2 separate regions of the Homo sapiens genome follow, and region 1 is linked to region 2. Evidence: fine-mapped expression QTL. Tissue or cell type: monocytes after interferon gamma. Region 2 holds a variant in brackets; the other region holds the start of a gene. All regions are shown on one strand. Distances are between the middles of the regions.

Region 1 (8,107 bases), 41 kb after region 2:
ATTAGCCTAGGAGCTGGGTTCCTGCAAGGCAAAGAGGAATCTAAGAAGTAAGAGTAAGGGTCTTTCTCCCAATTCTCAACAACAAAAATGCTCCTAGATAATCAAAAGCTGATTGCAGTTTTGTTGTGACTTATTTTGGTTTATATCCAAAGTCTCTTAAGCAATGTCCTGTTCTATTTACTGAATTCTAAGTTGATTTTACTTTGAATATAATGTAATAAATGTTTCTATGTTTAGGGCCCTAAAAAATGGGAGAGTGGGGCAAGCAAGGAAGCAGGGATGGAAAGCTTCCTATAAGAGCAGGATTTGGTGGCCAGGTGCGGTGGCTCATGCCTATAATCCCAGCACTCTCGGAGGCTGAGGTGGGCAGATCACTTGAGGTCAGGAGTTTGAGACCAGTTTTGGCCAACATGGTGAAACCCCTCCCCTGCTAAAAATACAAAAATTAGGCCAGGCGCAATGGCTCACACCTGTAATCTCAGCACTTCGGGAGGCCAAGGCAGGAGGATCATTTAAGGTTGGGAGTTCGAGACCAGCCTGGCCAACATGGTGAAACTTTACCTCTACTAAAAATACAAATATTAACCAGGCCTGGTGGTAGGTGCCTATAATCCCAGCTACTCGGGAGGCTGAGGCAGGAGAATCACTTGAACCTGGGAGGCAGAAGTTGCAGTGTGCCAAGATCATGCCTCTGCACTCCAGCCTGGGAGCAAGATCCAGTCTCAAAAAATAAAATAAAATAAAATAGAGTAGGATCTGGCAAACTTTTGAGCATTCTATTCAACAAAGGTGTTTACTGAGTAAAATATTTTCCTCGTCTCAAGCATAACAAATTGCCTATTTATTACTTTACTTATACTCCATTCTTCAAATAGCTCTTTTCTCCCTAATTCAATAAGCAAACTTTCAATTACAAATGGTGGTAAATAGGAAATAAGAAAGAAGAGACAAAGGTCAAGGTCAAGCAGAGTTGTATTTAAAAAGTCAGCTGCACTTGCATGTTTATCAGAGCACTATTCACAATAGCGAAGACATGGAAACAAGCCCATCAATGGTGGACTGGAAGAATATGTGGTGTATATGCATACCATGGATTATTACACAGACATTAAAACAAATAAAATCATGTCCTTTACAGCAACACAGATGCAGCTGGAGGCCATTATCCTAAGTGAATTAATGCAAAAACAGCCAAATACTACATGTTCTAACTTACAAGTAGGAGGTAAACATTGGGTACATATGGACACAAAGATGGGAACAATAAACACTGGGGACTCAAAACAGAATGGAGGGATGGAGGGAAGAGTTGAAAAACTACCTATTGGGTACTATGTTCACTATTTGGGTGACGGGTTCAGTTGAAGCCCAAACCTCAGTATATGTAATACATCCACGTAACAAACCTGCACATGTACGCCCGAATCTAAAATAAAAAATAAAAATAAAAAGTTGGCTCACATAGTTTAATATAAAAAGGCAAACCTACTGTTGCCTTCTATACATGTCTACTTTAGAAATGGAAAGCTTCCTATAAGAGCTGTTTATAAGAGCTATAAACTCTGTTTACAGACAGGAAAAGGAAAAAGAAAGCACAGTTGGCTGAGAAAAAAGACTTTAATACTCTATTTACTTATTTGGGTCCATGCTTTGACTGTCAAACATGTATTAACAAGCTTTCGAGAAAATACTAACTATATACAGTTCTTTAGAAAAGAAAGGCAGAAATTACATTTCATTTTTTTAAAAATGGCTAGGTACATAGAAAAAACACAATGACAATCCACCAAAATATTAACAATGATTATCTTTGGAAGATGGGACTGTGAATTTACCCTTTATTCGCACATTTTAAGAAATACTAAAAAAGTAATCACGCCACTGCACTCCAGCCTGGGCGACAGAGCCAGACTCCGTTAAAAAAAAAAAAAAGAGAGAAATACTAAAAAAGTAATACATGTAATCGAACAAGAGAAAGTTACCCTTGACCAGTCCCTTACTCCTGCCCTCAGCCAAATCCCAAGAGTGGGCTACACAGATAACCACTGTTTGGTCCAGACCTTTTACCTCTGCATTTATGCATATGCACACATGCATATGATGGATCATCTTTTAAACATACAAATAAGATCATATGATAGATATATATAGATGTGGTTCTGACATGCTTTTTTTGTTTCTATTTGGAGATCTTTCCATGTCAGTAACAGCTACATGACAGTCACAGTTCAGATGTACCATAATTTATCCATTCCCCTCCCCAACCCACATTTTTTTTTAGAGGTGGGGGTCTTGCTATGTTGCCCAGGCTGGTCTCAAACCCCTGGCCTCAAGCAATCCTCCCACCTCAGCCTCCCAAAGTGCTGGGATTACAGGCATGAGACACCACATCTGACCTATCCATTCCCCTTCTGACTGACATTTAGGTTTTCTCCCACTTTCCATTGCTGCAAACACTCCTGCAAATTACAGGCATATACAATAACTAAATGCTTTAAATTTTCTTAATTCTTAAAAGTTTAAAAGTTTTTAAACATTAAAAAAAATTTCACTTACTTTGGACTGGAAATAAATGTTTCAAGATAGTTCTCTTTGACATCACCCATTTTACTGCAGCTACAGCCATGGTGTTTCAAGATGCTTATCAAGTGGTATGAAAAAAGATGTTCTGAAGAGAAACTGCTTTTAGAATCTGCTTCTAAGCATACCAATTTCTACTCCTGCTGAAGAGATAAAGAAAAATCAGTGCTACCTATGGTAAATTTAAGTTATATTAAACACCACAAGAACAAGGTAAGAATCACTGCCTAGAAGTCAACTGAAGCAATGCTTTTAAACAACTTGGCAATTCCACATGATTGAACAACAGGACGAAGAGCGACATGGACAGAATATAAGATCAGAACCACTGGAACTATGTCCATTACTATTTATCTTAGATACAAACTTCTCTGCAGGACCCAGTGCAGCTCCTTCCACTTAATGAATACTCAGTAAATGTGTAATTACTCTTGAAACAGTCACTCACAAATGGTACACAGAGTATTCATTCTTTTAATGCTAGTGTGGCTGTGTACACCCTCCAAGGTTCCATACACAAGATACTACATCATTTACAGTACTATCCTGTTTCTGATTAAATGAAATAGTTGTCTGCCCTGAGCCATTAATAATAATAATAATAATAAAGAAATATCAAACAAGGCCTATCCTTAGCCTATTACTCAATTGGAGGAACTCATAAATGCCCTCAAGTCCCAGATAAAATTTCACCATCTTATATGTGTACAAAGTCTTTAACTTTCCAACGTACTTTCACCACCATTTCATTTTGCTCTCGTATTAATCATGTGAGGTATCTTTATTCTGATTCATGAAGAAACTAAAGTACAAAATTTAAACGTCTTGCTTCCAAGGACTTTAGAGTCAGTCACTGCCAAATTGGGAAACTTTAAACAAGTCATTAACTAAACGATCCTCAGTTTCTCCAATGACAAAATGGGGAAAACCACAATCTTCATGGCCTGTTGTGAATAAATGACAAATAACCATTGTTAAATCTTGTTTTTAATAGTCTTCAATGAGTATCCGTGCCCTTCCCCCCAATAGTGATAAAAGAGAATTAGGACACAGGCCCTCTTATTTGCTAGTCTAAACCACTCACACTGATACCTTGCACTGCCAGTACATTAACACCGTTAACCCTGAGCTCATAGGTGTGCTTTTTAGTTTACAACCCACTTTCATATACAATATGTGCTCTGACTTTCACAAGTGTGTGAAGCAGCATCTCCATTTCAGATTAAGAACAAAGGCTCAGAGAGGTCAATCGATTACTTGCTCAGTATATCGCTGCTTAATACATGCGTGGGACGTAAACCCATGACTTCTGACCACGAATAAAACATCTTGGGGGAAATTAGGTCCCCTCTGTCCGAAGCCCAGAGAAAAGCACGCCCTGCTGGGAGTCAGATTATTCACCCCAGGAAGATCATTTCAGAGATCAAGTCCCTCAGCCCGGAATTCAACCCCAAAACAAAAGCTACAGAGCCTCTGAGGGTCAGAGGTTTGAGGAACAGGCTACCAAGAGCACCAGAACTCTTCGACCTAAAGGAGTCCCTAGAGCCACAAGCTGCATCACCTCCCCACGGGCGTCCGCCAGGGAACAAAGGGGGCGCTATAAGAAACGCGCAGCCACATGCCGGCTCTTCTGCAGGAAGGACAAAGGCTGGGGATGCAGGCAACCTCGCCCTGCCGGGAACGACAGGCGGGAGACCTCTACAACTGCCGACCAACACTGTGGGACTGCCCAGTTTCGAGGAAGTCCTCGACAGGAGGAGTAGAGGGAAGCGGTTACCTTGACGGCTTCTCACCACGAACCCGCCATCTTGTTTCAATCCTGGTCCCACGAAACAGCGCTGCGCGCGCCGTCCCAGCCCGCGGGGCATTCTGGGAAATGTAGTCTCCGCGGGAAAGCGGCCCGGGTGCAGAGAGAAAGGGAGGATTGTTGCTATGGACTTTTACCTTTAGTTGGGGAAGCGTGGCCGCAGTGTTACTAAGGTGCCCAGAAAAACAAAATCACTGCCCCAAACACATACCCTTAGAAAGTAACAAGCTTTTTTTTTTTTTTTTTTTTGTGAGGCAGTCTCATTCTGTCACCCAGACTGGAGTGCAATGGCTCCCTCACGGCTCACTGCAGCCTCTACCTCCTGGGCCCAAGAGAGCCTCCCACCTCAGCCTCCTGAGTAGCTGGTACTACAGGCGCACACCACCACACCCAGCTAATTTTTTAATATTTTTGTAGAGACGAGGTCTCGGTATGTTGCCCAGGCTTGTCTCAAGCAATCCTCCTGCCTCGGCGTCCCAAAGTGCTGGAATTACAGGCATGAGCCACCATGCAAACCTATAAGTACTTTTTAAAAAAATTATGTTAATATTCAGAGAAATCGTAGATTGCTCTTTAGTAGATGAGTTAAAGTTTCCCAGGGGAAGAGACATTCCAGAGAAGCCCTGAAATGTGGAGGCTAGGATTTGGACGTTTGAAATCAGAACCTGAAGAGAACCTCCACTCTGAAAACCTGGCACTGTGCCCTCAGAACTGTGCTGGCTACCTATTATGGGAGGAAGTAAATATGCAGAATCTTGGACCTCGCTTTCCATCTTAGGAGGAAGGAAAGACCTCTGGGCCTTTGCACTCTCTGTTCCCATTGCCAGCAATGTGCTTCTCTGACCTCTTCTCATGACCTTACAGGTCTTTCTCAAATATCATCTTAGAAAGGACCACACCATTAAAATAGCCTCACCCACCCTTATTCCATGCCCCGCTTTATTTTCCTTCAGAATATTTACCATTACCTGACTTTATATTGATTATTTGTTTGCTCGTTGAATGTCTCTTTCTTTTTTTTTTTTTTTTTGAGACGGAGTCTTGCTCTATCGCCCAGGCCGGAGTGCAGTGGCATGATCTCAGCTCACTGCAACCTCCGCCTCTCAGCTTCAAGCGATTCTCCTGCCTCAGCTTCCTAATTAGCTGGGATTACAGGTGGCCACCACCACGCCCAGCTAATTTCTGTATTTTTAGTAGAGATGGGGTTTCGCCATGTTTGCCCGGCTGATCTCGAACTCCTTACCTCAGGTGATATGCCCACCTCGGCCTCTCAAAGGGCTGGATTACAGGCGTGAGCCACCACACCCAACCTCGTTTAATGTCTCTTATGCTGGATAATGTAAGCTCCTTGAAGACAGAGACATATGTCTATCTTGTTCTTCACTGTATGCAAACCCAGCATCTCAGACTGTGCTTGGTCTCATTATAGGTCTCCAGGAAGTGTTTGCTGAATGAATGAAAAGACTAGATAACGCTGCAAGTATCCAAGACAGTAGATGATTGGCTGGTAAAGCAGAAGCGGTCGCCTGGAAATTCCCTTCTCCCATGATTTGCAAAATTTTGCTTTTGTATATTTTTCTAAGAAATAATCTATAGCTTTTATTATGTATTCCAGGGAATTGATAAACCCCTCAACAAGTTAAGAACCATATTCCTGAAGTGACTAGTATTGAAAGTAAGTGAACACACATCACATAGTAAAGAAAACTAAATACGGGCTGTGTAGTGTGTCTCCTCATTTCCCACGGAATATCAGGAGGCTAATCTTTGCTCTTATAGAAGCCCACAGAGGGCCCATCTGTGTCCTTTCCAGTCGTGTCCATCCTCCAAAGCCACCCATGATGTCTTTCTGGACTGTGCAATAGGAAGGGACAGAGAGGAGAAACAGATTTGAATGAGCAGTCAACTGGACTGGTTGAACATTCCCTGCGTAAAGTGTAAGAAGAATGGATCAAAGATAATTCCAGAGGTCAAGTCTTGATGGCTGTGAGCAGAGTGGGACCAGTCCCCAACAGGGAGACTCACTTAGTGGGACCAAGGAAGGTCTCACAAAGCTGAGACCAGAAAAGAAACCAACATTTTTGGGGGAAGAGAGGGGAGAGACAGGTTTAGGCTGAGTGAGGGAACAACTTACACAAAGGTTTAATGTGGTGGAAATAGCTTACCATATACTGGAGTAGGGTGGATAGTGTGGATGAGAGCGGCAGGAGATGAGATTTGGAGCCAGGTCATGTTGGGCTTCATAAGCCTTGGAGGGGTTAACATGGAGTTAGGACACAGGACATATGTAGAGATTAAATAGAGTAGGTGGTGCTGTGTGCCTGTAGTCCTAGTTACCCTGGGAATGGGAGGCTGAAGTGGGAGGATTGCTTGAGCCCAGGAGGTCAAGGCGGTAGTAAGCTATGATCGTGCCGTGCACTCCAGCCTGGGTGACAGAGTGAGCCCTGTCTCTTGAGATTTTTACATGAAAGAAGTGACATAATTTGATTTCCATTTTTAAAAGGTTACTCTGGCTGCCCTGGGAGGAGTGGTTTGGAGAGTGGCAAGACCGCAGGCAAGTCTAGCAAGGAAGCTACTGCAGTACTGCAGTCAAGAAATCATGTGATGGAGGGTGGTGGCAGTGGAGATGGAGAGACAGGAAGAGTCCAGATGTATTTTGAAATTGGAAGTGATGACTTAACTTGCTGATGGATTGATTGAGAGGGAGGAAGATACTTCAGGTGATGCTTTGATGACTAGTTGACAGTGGTGCCCTTCATAAGACAAGGAAGACTGAAAGAGGAACAGGTTTGGGGAGTCTGATGATGGTGGAAATGCATACTTCCGTTTGGGAGTTGTTGAGTTTGAGATGGCTCTGAGACACTCCAGTGGAGATACAAAACAAGTCAGCAGCCTGGGCAATATAGTGAGTGAGGCCTTGTCTCTACAAAAAATAAACAGAATTAGTAAGGTTGATGATGCACACCTGTGATCCCAGCTACTAAGGAGGCTGAGGTAGGAGGATCGTTTGAGCCCTGGAGGTTGAGGCTGCAGTGAGCTATGGTCATGCCACTGCACTCCAGCCTGAGTAACAGAGTGAGAGCCCCATCTCCAAAAAAACAAAAAACAAAAGGCAGGTACTTGAAGAGGTGTGTTTGGAGAGTAGAGGTTGGACTAGGTATAGAAAAAAAAAGATAAAGGGCCTAGAAGCTGGCCCCAGGGAATTCGAAGGCTTAGAAATCAGATGGAGGAGGATAACCTTTAGCAAGGGCCTCCCAGGAGTGGCAGTGAGAAAGGTAGAAGGAAAACAAATACTGTGATGTAAGAGTAGTTAAGAGAGGCCATGTCACAAAGTGTTCCTAACTTAAGAGGTCAGTGCTAGCAACTTAAAAAGTATAATTTCCAAAAATACAAACTTGAAATACCAGCAAATAACTTATATTGGCCTACATAAAAGTGCTTTATTTTATTTTATTTATTTATTTTTTTAAGACGGAGTCTTGCTCTGTCACCCAGGCTGGAGTACAGTGATGTGATCTCGGCTCACTGCAACCTCCACCTCCTGGGTACGAGTGATTCTCCTGCCTCAGCCTCCTGAGTAGCTGGGATTACAGGTGCCCACCACAATGCGCAGCTAATTTTTGTATTTTTAGTAGAGACGGAGTTTCACCATGTTGGCCAGACTGGTCTCGATCTCCTGACCTCAAGTGATCCGCCCACCTCAAGTGATCCGCACACTTC
Region 2 (8,107 bases):
AAAAAAAAAAAAATTCTAAATGTCACAAATGAGCTGGTTTCTTTCTCGTTAAAATATGTAATCCAGGGTAGATTGACAATACTACTACTTTCATGGATTGATGTATATCTAAACTGTTTCCATGGTTTTTAAAAAATATTATTCATAAGATGAAACCAGATTTACAAAGGGATAATGGTCGGAATGGGAAAAAAAAGTTTTTAAACTAATTTCAGCATACTCAGAATATTCACTTTTAACTTTTATCCAAAATGAAGCAAGTGGTGTGGTATTTTCAAAATTCATTTTTAATCCTTCATTAGTTGCCAGTTAGAACAATGTATCATATAAGCTTACAATTAAATTTAAATCCTCTTTTGATGACATAAATGGATTCCAGATCTATGAATTTGCCGTATGTAGACATTCTTTTGTTGGAAAATAAAACTTAAAGCATTCTATCAAATTCACAATAGTTTGATTACTTCTTACAGATGTGCAATATCAAGACAATCACCAACTTCAATGACAATTGTTAAATTATGGAACATGTAATAACAATCTGTAGCAACTCTGGTCTTTCAAGCTTCTACCTTTTGCTTTTGCTCTTTGATTTTATCTGCCATTAAAAAACAAGTTGCATTCCTGCCTTGTATGAAAGAATTCTGAAGCTATCAGAACTGTCTTCAGATAATTGAAGATAGTAACTTCAGGTAACTCTAGCTGGCCAATTTATATCTTTATTTCATTTTATTATTTTATTTTGAGGCAGAGTTTCACTCTTTTTATCCAGGCTGGTGTGCAGTGGCACAATCTTGGCTCACTGCAACCTCTGCTTCCTGGGTTCAAGCGATTCTCCTGCCTTAGCCTCCCGAGTAGCAAGGAATACAGGTGTGTGCCACCACGCCCAGCTAATTTTTGTATTTTTAGTAGAGATGGGGTTTCACCATGTTGGCCAGGCTGGTCTCGAACCTCTGACCTCAGGTGATCCGCCTGCCTCGGCCTCCCAAAGTGCTGGGATTACAGGCATGAGCCACCGCACCCAGCCCAATGTATATCTTTATAAAGCTGGGACCAAACTGGCTTCTTGCAGCAATAATTAAATGTTCAAATATGCTCAACAGAACTTTCCCTCTAGATAATCATCATATCTCTAAATGTAATCACAGTTGTTTGTTTTCCAAACTATTACATAAAGAGAACAATCTCAAACTTATTGCATTAGCCTTTACACAAGTTATGTTCTTTACTAAGTCACTGAACACACTGTACAGTTCAGTTGATATGCTTTTTCTACCAAGACTTTTTCAAATAAAAAGATATAGTAGGTTGATTTACATTCTAGGGCAAGCTCCTTAATTTAGGTAATTATTCCGGAATGTTCTCTTACCACTGCTGCTATCCATCCAATTGGATTCCTACAAAGCTTCAAACCACATTAATTAACAAAGTAATTTATTCCACACTTTACTGTTGTTTAGAGTTAGCTGTTTGTTGGCAATGAAGTGGAAAAAAGAGAATCTTCCTTCATATTACTATCATATTCAAATAGCATATAAACTAATTGCCATATTAGTAATATCTATATATTAATGGTACATCAAACCAATTGCAAGAAAAGGTAATTTATTAGCTTTCTTTGTTCTATGGGTTGATCTTCCTGGATATTTCAAATTGTTGTGTGTTGGTAACTGGTAATTGAAGTACTTTCTTTGCCACACAGTCTCCCAACATTTCTAAGAATCTTTGATGCTGATTATTATTAAGACAATTATTGTCTATATATAAGATTATTGTCTTAATTGCATTTTTTAGTTTTAGCAATCTAAAGTTGCTTAAAGATGTCTAAAAAGCATTAACGTTTATTTGTGAAATAATGAATATCTGTGCTTTCAGTTTTTTAATTACTTAGGTTTTTCTTTCAAAGAGATCTTCTGGTTTTGGATTTATCTCTTTATGTTCTGTATTTAAATGTTGATTTAGTTTTGATTATTTTATTGCTTCATTTGCCAGAACTTCTCAGCAAATAACATGTTATGGTTTTCCCATGTCTTCATTTATGGCTAAAAAACTGAACTCAGTATATGAAGAATTATATTTATGAGTAAAACTAGAACAATCTATTGGTTTTCATTTATTCAGAATCGCTTTTATTGTCACCATTAGGTTTACTAATACTGTTGCATTCAGAAAAGGTAAGTCTTTTCTTGATAAAAAAAGCCAGTGAAGTTATTTTGCCATCCATAACATGGTGTTAAAGATAAATGAAACAAATTACCCCAAACCTTCACATCGATTGCATTCCCTGCCTGAAACTTTCTCTCCTTTCTCTTTAAACAGATCTAATCTTAACACTGGTCCCCCATAAAAATATTTCCAGTGCATATATCTGACAAAAGATTTATCCAAAATATTTAAAGAAATATTATAACTTCAATCATAAGAAGAAAAAATAATGAGTAAATAGATGTTCCATATCACATATTATCAGGGAAATGCAAATTAAAATAAATGTGATGTGGATGAGCTGTCTGAGCAGAGAAAAACACAAAACAAGTGAGACACCACTACACACCTTTTAGAATGGCCAAAATTCAGAACACTAACACCAAGTGCTGACAGGGATGTTGAGCAATAGGAACCCTTATTCACTGCTGGTGGGAATGCAAAATGGTACAGCCTCTCTGTAGGACAGTTTGGTGGTTTTTTACAAAACGAAACATTCTCTTAGCATTCAATCCAACAATTGTGCTCTTTGGTATTTACCCAAAGGAGTTGAAAGCTTAAATGGACACAAAAACCTACACATGGATATCTATAGCAATTTTATTCATAATTGCCAAAACTTGGAAGCAATCAACCAAGATGTCCTTCAGCAGGTGAATGGATAAACTGTTGTACACCCAGACAATGGAGTATTACTCGATGCTAAAAAGAAATGAGCTATCAAACTGTGAAAAGACATAGAGGAAACAAATGCATATTATCCAGTGAAAGAAACCAATGTGAAAAGGCTATATATACTTTATGATTCCAACTATATGGCGTTCTGAAAAAGGAAAAACTTACGGAGACAGTGAAAAGACCAGTGGTAGCCGGGGGTCAGTGGGGAGGACACGACGAAGAGGCAGAGCCAAGGGTTTTTAGGACAGTGTAGACTCTGCATGACTATAAAGATGGATACATGTCATTGTACCTTTGTTCAAACCCATAGATTGTACAGCACCAAGAGTGAACCCTAATGGAAACAATAGGCTTTGGGTGATAATGATGTGTCAGTGTAGGTTTATCAATTGTAACCAATGTGCCACTCTGCTGGGGGATGGTGATGAGGGAGGCATGGGGGAGGGGAGCACTGAGGATATATAAGTTATTTCTGTACCCTCCTCTCAATTTTGCTCAGAACCTAAAACTACTTTTAAAAACTAAAGTTTTTTTTTTTTT[TC/C]AGGAGATGAGGATCTCACTATGTTGCCCAGGCTGCAGTGCAGTGGCTATTCACAGGTGTGATCCCACTACTGATCAGCACAGGAGTTTTGACCTGCTCCACTTCTGACGCTCCTTAGGCAACTCTGGGTCCCAGTGACCCAGGAGGTCACTACATTTATGCTGAACTTAGTGCAAACACCTGATTGACATAGCTCACTACAACCCAGAACTTCTGGACTCAAGTGATCCTCCTGTCTTAGCCTCCTGAGTAGCTAGGTCTACAGGCATGTGCCACTGTGCCTGGCAAAAAGTCTTTTTTAAGTGCTAAGAAAAAAAAAAGAGCAAATGATTTGAACAGATATTTCACCAAAGATATGAGTGCCCAACAAGTACCTGAATCAAAACTTAATGTTATTGATCATCAGAGAAATGCAAATTAAAACCATCAAATTATTACTATATATCCATTAGAATGGCTAAAACTAAAAATATTATCAAATGAGGGCAAGAATATAGCAATTGGAACTTTCATTCATGGTGGTGAGAATATAAAATGGTACAACCACTTTGCAAAAAGCGTTTTGGCAGTTTTTTTTTTTTTTTTGAGACGGAATCTCGTTTTATCACCCAGACTGGAGTGCAGTGGTGTGATCTTGGCCCACTGCAACCTCTGCCTCCTGGGTTCAAGGGATTCTCCTGCCTCAGCCTCCTGAGTAGCTAGGATTACAGATGCCTGCCACCACACCCAGCTAATTTTTGCATTTTTAGTAGAGACGGGGTTTCACCATGTTAGCTAGGCTGGTCTCAAACTCCTGACCTCAAGTGATCCGCCCACCTCCGCCTCCTAAAGTGCTGGGATTACAGGTGTGAACTACCACGCCCAGCCCCCCAGCTCATTCTTAGCTAACTAGTGTGTGTGAAAAAGAGACAGTGTTAAAATATATATGGTTTAAACTGATAAGGAAATGATCAGTTATTGAGCTTATCCATGATTGCTAATTCAGGTAGAGATGGCTTATAAGTAAGTGTTCGGGGCTGCTTACGGGAAGAAAAAATGAAAGTTAGGGATTTCCTTTGGATGCTGGGAAACAAAACTCCAACTGGGTTCTGACAAACATACCATGTGCATTGTCCTGTGGAGACATGACAATGTAAACCCATAAACAAATCGATTACGTTTTGGTGACAACTATTGTGAAGAGAATGGCCATAGTATTTGCTGCTTCTCCTTTTAATAGGTAGCATCTCTCCTCTTACTCCCTTGAATCTGAGATAGCCTTATGAAGTGATATTGTGCCAGTTCTGAGACTAGGCCTCAAGAAGCCTCGAAGCTTCCAATCTTGCACTTTTTTGTTTGTTTTGATACAGGTGCTTGTTCTGTTGCCCAGCCTAGAGTGCAGTGGCACAATCATGGCTCACTACAGCCTCAATCTCATGGGCTCAAGCAATCCTCCCATCTCAGCCTCCCAAATAGCTGGGACTACAGGCATGCAGCACCACCCCACCCTCCCCACCCCCAGCTAATTTTTTAAAATTTTTTTGTAGAAGACCAGGCGTGGTGGCTCACACCTGTAATCCCAGCACTTTGGGAGGCTGAGGCAGGCAGATCACCTGAGGTGGGGAATTCAAGACCAGCCTGACCAACACGGAGAAACCCATCTCTACTAAAAATACAAAATTAGCTGGGCGTGGTGGCTCATGCCTGTAATCTCAGCTACTCAGGAGACTGAGGCAGGAGAATCGCTTGAACCCAAGAGGCAAAGGTTCTGGTGGGCTGAGATTGCGCCATTGCACTCCAGCCTGGGCAACAAGGGCGAAACTCCATCTCAAAAAATTTTTTTTTTTACAGATGGGCTCTCACTATGTTGCCCAGGCTGGTCTTGAACTCCTGGGCTCAAGAAATCCCCCAACCTTGGCCTCCCAAAGTGCTGGGATTACAGGTGTGAGTCATCATGCCCAGCCCCAATCTCATACTCTTGAAATCCTAAAGCCATGTGAAGAATCCAGGCCTAGCTTGCTGGATGATGAGAGACACAGTCCCCCTAATGCCCCAGGTGACAGTCACTCAATACCAGACATATGAGTGACACCATCTAGGACTAGCCAGCCTCAACAACCCAACTAGTGACCTCAGCTGCATGGGCAAGTCCAGCCAAGATAAGCTGAGCTGGATCCAGACTATAAGAATTACCTGGAAGAACGCAAACTAATGAAAGATTGTTGTTTTAAGCCAATGAGCTTTGGGGTGATTTGTTAATTGGCAATAGATAACTGATATTCAAGGATTCATCCAAAGTTCCCTTAAAAGATAGAACCCATTAAGTCATTTTAAACACTTATAAGCAAGTTATTAAATCCTTAAAAGAAACTGAAAGTTTCTAAGGTATACTGGGTTGGAAAAAGGAAAAGAAAAAGAAACTAAAAGTGAAGGCTGAAACTGACAAGTAAGGAGTTATTTCTCCCTGCAAATGTAATCAGAAAATAAGGTGGAGTGTCTCTGAATGCATAACTGGAACAAGGAAACAATCTAATGGTTTTAGTAGTAAATATATGATTTCAGGGGCACATCCAGTGGAATGATGGAGTCAGTGCACAACAACTTGTAAGACCCAGTCATGGAAACTGGCAAACATTACAAGTTAGAACCAGTTGTTAAATCTTCATTAGTACATCACTGGACACATCTATTGCTAAAGGCACATTTCATCAGTATGTATATGCATAAATATACATATAAGATGTCCTTAATGTTTAAAAAAGACATTGGTTGGTTCTGCCACAATCTGTGATCTTGGGCAAGTCAATTAGTGTCTTTGGATCTGTTTCCAAATCAGTCCCCAAAAATCATCTTTAAGATGTCTTTCAGCTTTACGATTCTATCTTCTATGCTCTTATGGTAATTACACCTGGATGCAGCAATTGAAAAGTCCAATGGGATCAATCCAAATTGCCACACTTAACCATGTTACTGACTACATATATTACTCATCAAGACAATTATTCAAGTAAGTGGCATAATAGTAATCCAATGTACTTTGCATTATGAGTGAAGAAGAGACTAATTTTGACTAGAGGGGAAAGAAGGGATGGTCATAGCAAGATACTTTGTCAATCAGGAATGAGGGCTATCTTTGAACCCACAGTGGCTTGAACTCTATAGGTGCTTAATAAAATTTGCCGAAAAGATTACATGCTTAGAGACAACATTATAAAGAAAAGACATTCTTGGCCGGGCGTGGTGGCTCATGCCTGTAATCCCAGCACTTCAGGAGGCGAAAGCAGGTGGATCACCTGAGGTCAGGAGTTTGAGACCAGCCTGACCAACATGGAGAAACCCCATCTCTACTAAATACAAAAAATTAGCCGGACATGGTGTTGCATGCCTATAGTCCCAGCTACTTGGGAAGCTGAGGCAGGAGAATCGCTTGAACCCGGGAGGTGGAGGTTGCAGTGAGCTGAGAATGTGCCACTACACTCCAGCCAAGGCAACAAGAGCAAGACTCTGTCCCAAAAAAAAAAAAAAAAAAAAAAGAGACATTCTTGCTGAATTGAAGACTCAGAAGAGGCTGGGCACAGTGGCTCACCCTTGTAATCCCAGTATTTTGGGGGGCCAAGGTGGGCAGATCACCTGAGGTCAGGAGTTCAAGACCAGCCTGGCCAACGTGGTGAAACCCCATCTCTACTGAAAATACAAAAAATCAGCCAGGCATGCTGGTGCACGCTCATAATCCCAGCTACTCGGGAGGCTGAGGCAGGAGAATTGCTTGAGCCTATGAGGCGGAGGTTGCAGTGGGCTGAGATCATGCCACTGGCCACTGTACTGCACTCCAGCCTGGGTGACAAAAGTGAAACTCCATCTCAAAAAAAAAAAAAAAAAAAAGACTCAGAAGTAATCATAAGGTTCTACTTGCTATTCTCACATGTAATTGTGAGACTCTGCCTCCATTTCTCCATCTAAAAACAGGAGCTCATTTACAAGCAACATGACAAGAATTCAAGCAGTCATGGCTGTGAAGCATTTCTGCAGAAGGATATGCTATGTAAGTATGAGGTTGTTACTAAATCAAAATGAATGCCTTTGTGCAAAACTAGAAAGCACATTACATATTGTTCCTGAGTATTCCTTCCCAGTGCATTCAAAATATTCTCACATTCACAAGGTTAAACAGCACATTAAAAAATAGTAGGAGGCTGATGGCTGAGCTCAATTGGGAGTATCTTTCTTTGGTGTTAGAATGTTTGAAAATTATTTTGGGAAGACTATGAGCAAGTTATTTTGAACTTCTGGGGAAAAAAAAAAATCTGAAGAAGCATTCCCTTTGCCTAAAAGCAAAGGAGACATTTATTTATGCCTTTAGCAAATAAAATAGTTTGCTTACTACCAGTGTTTGTGGGCTGATATTCAACTCATCTTCTGGAAATTTTAAAAATACACATTGAAACTGAAAAAGTATTCTTTGAGTAAGGGTTTACCTGAAGTGCCCAGAACCATCCAAAATGATGGCACATTATATCTTTTTTTCTTAAAAATTTTTGGAATCTAATTGAAGATGCCTCTTAGAATATGTGGAAACCACACGTGCTATCTTGCATATCACTATCATTTCAGTTCTAATGTTATTAGGTGTTTAGCTACAGGCAAGTAGAATTAGGGCATGATGTGACAGACTGTAATGAGTTGCTGAGAAACTACATACTCTAT

Which allele goes with the higher level. Alleles are on the strand shown, and positions count from the first base shown. SD is a standard deviation of normalised expression in the study named.
In carriers of allele TC in region 2, the expression in monocytes after interferon gamma of the gene that starts at base 4,398 in region 1 tends to be lower than with C alone (large effect, 0.80 SD a copy in Fairfax 2014).

What was found. PIP is the estimated chance that this variant, and not a neighbour inherited with it, causes the effect.
Region 1: it holds the start of MRPL42, and the variant in region 2 is fine-mapped to the expression of MRPL42 in monocytes after interferon gamma (Fairfax 2014, PIP 0.95).

The regions. Positions count from the first base shown.
Region 1 is chr12:93,463,805-93,471,911 of GRCh38, reverse strand. It overlaps MRPL42 (mitochondrial ribosomal protein L42), which reads right to left and starts at 4,398. Exons shown (of 6, transcript NM_014050.4): 1 at 4,358-4,398; 2 at 2,557-2,720. The coding sequence starts at 2,626. RefSeq lists enhancers at 4,177-4,446, 4,507-4,566.
Region 2 is chr12:93,505,090-93,513,196 of GRCh38, reverse strand. It overlaps MRPL42 (mitochondrial ribosomal protein L42), which reads right to left. Exons shown (of 6, transcript NM_014050.4): 6 at 1-8,107. It also overlaps the pseudogene RN7SL737P. Among named protein-coding and RNA genes, the nearest start is that of MRPL42, 42 kb to the right of the region's middle. The variant TC/C (reference allele first, on the strand shown) is at 3,424.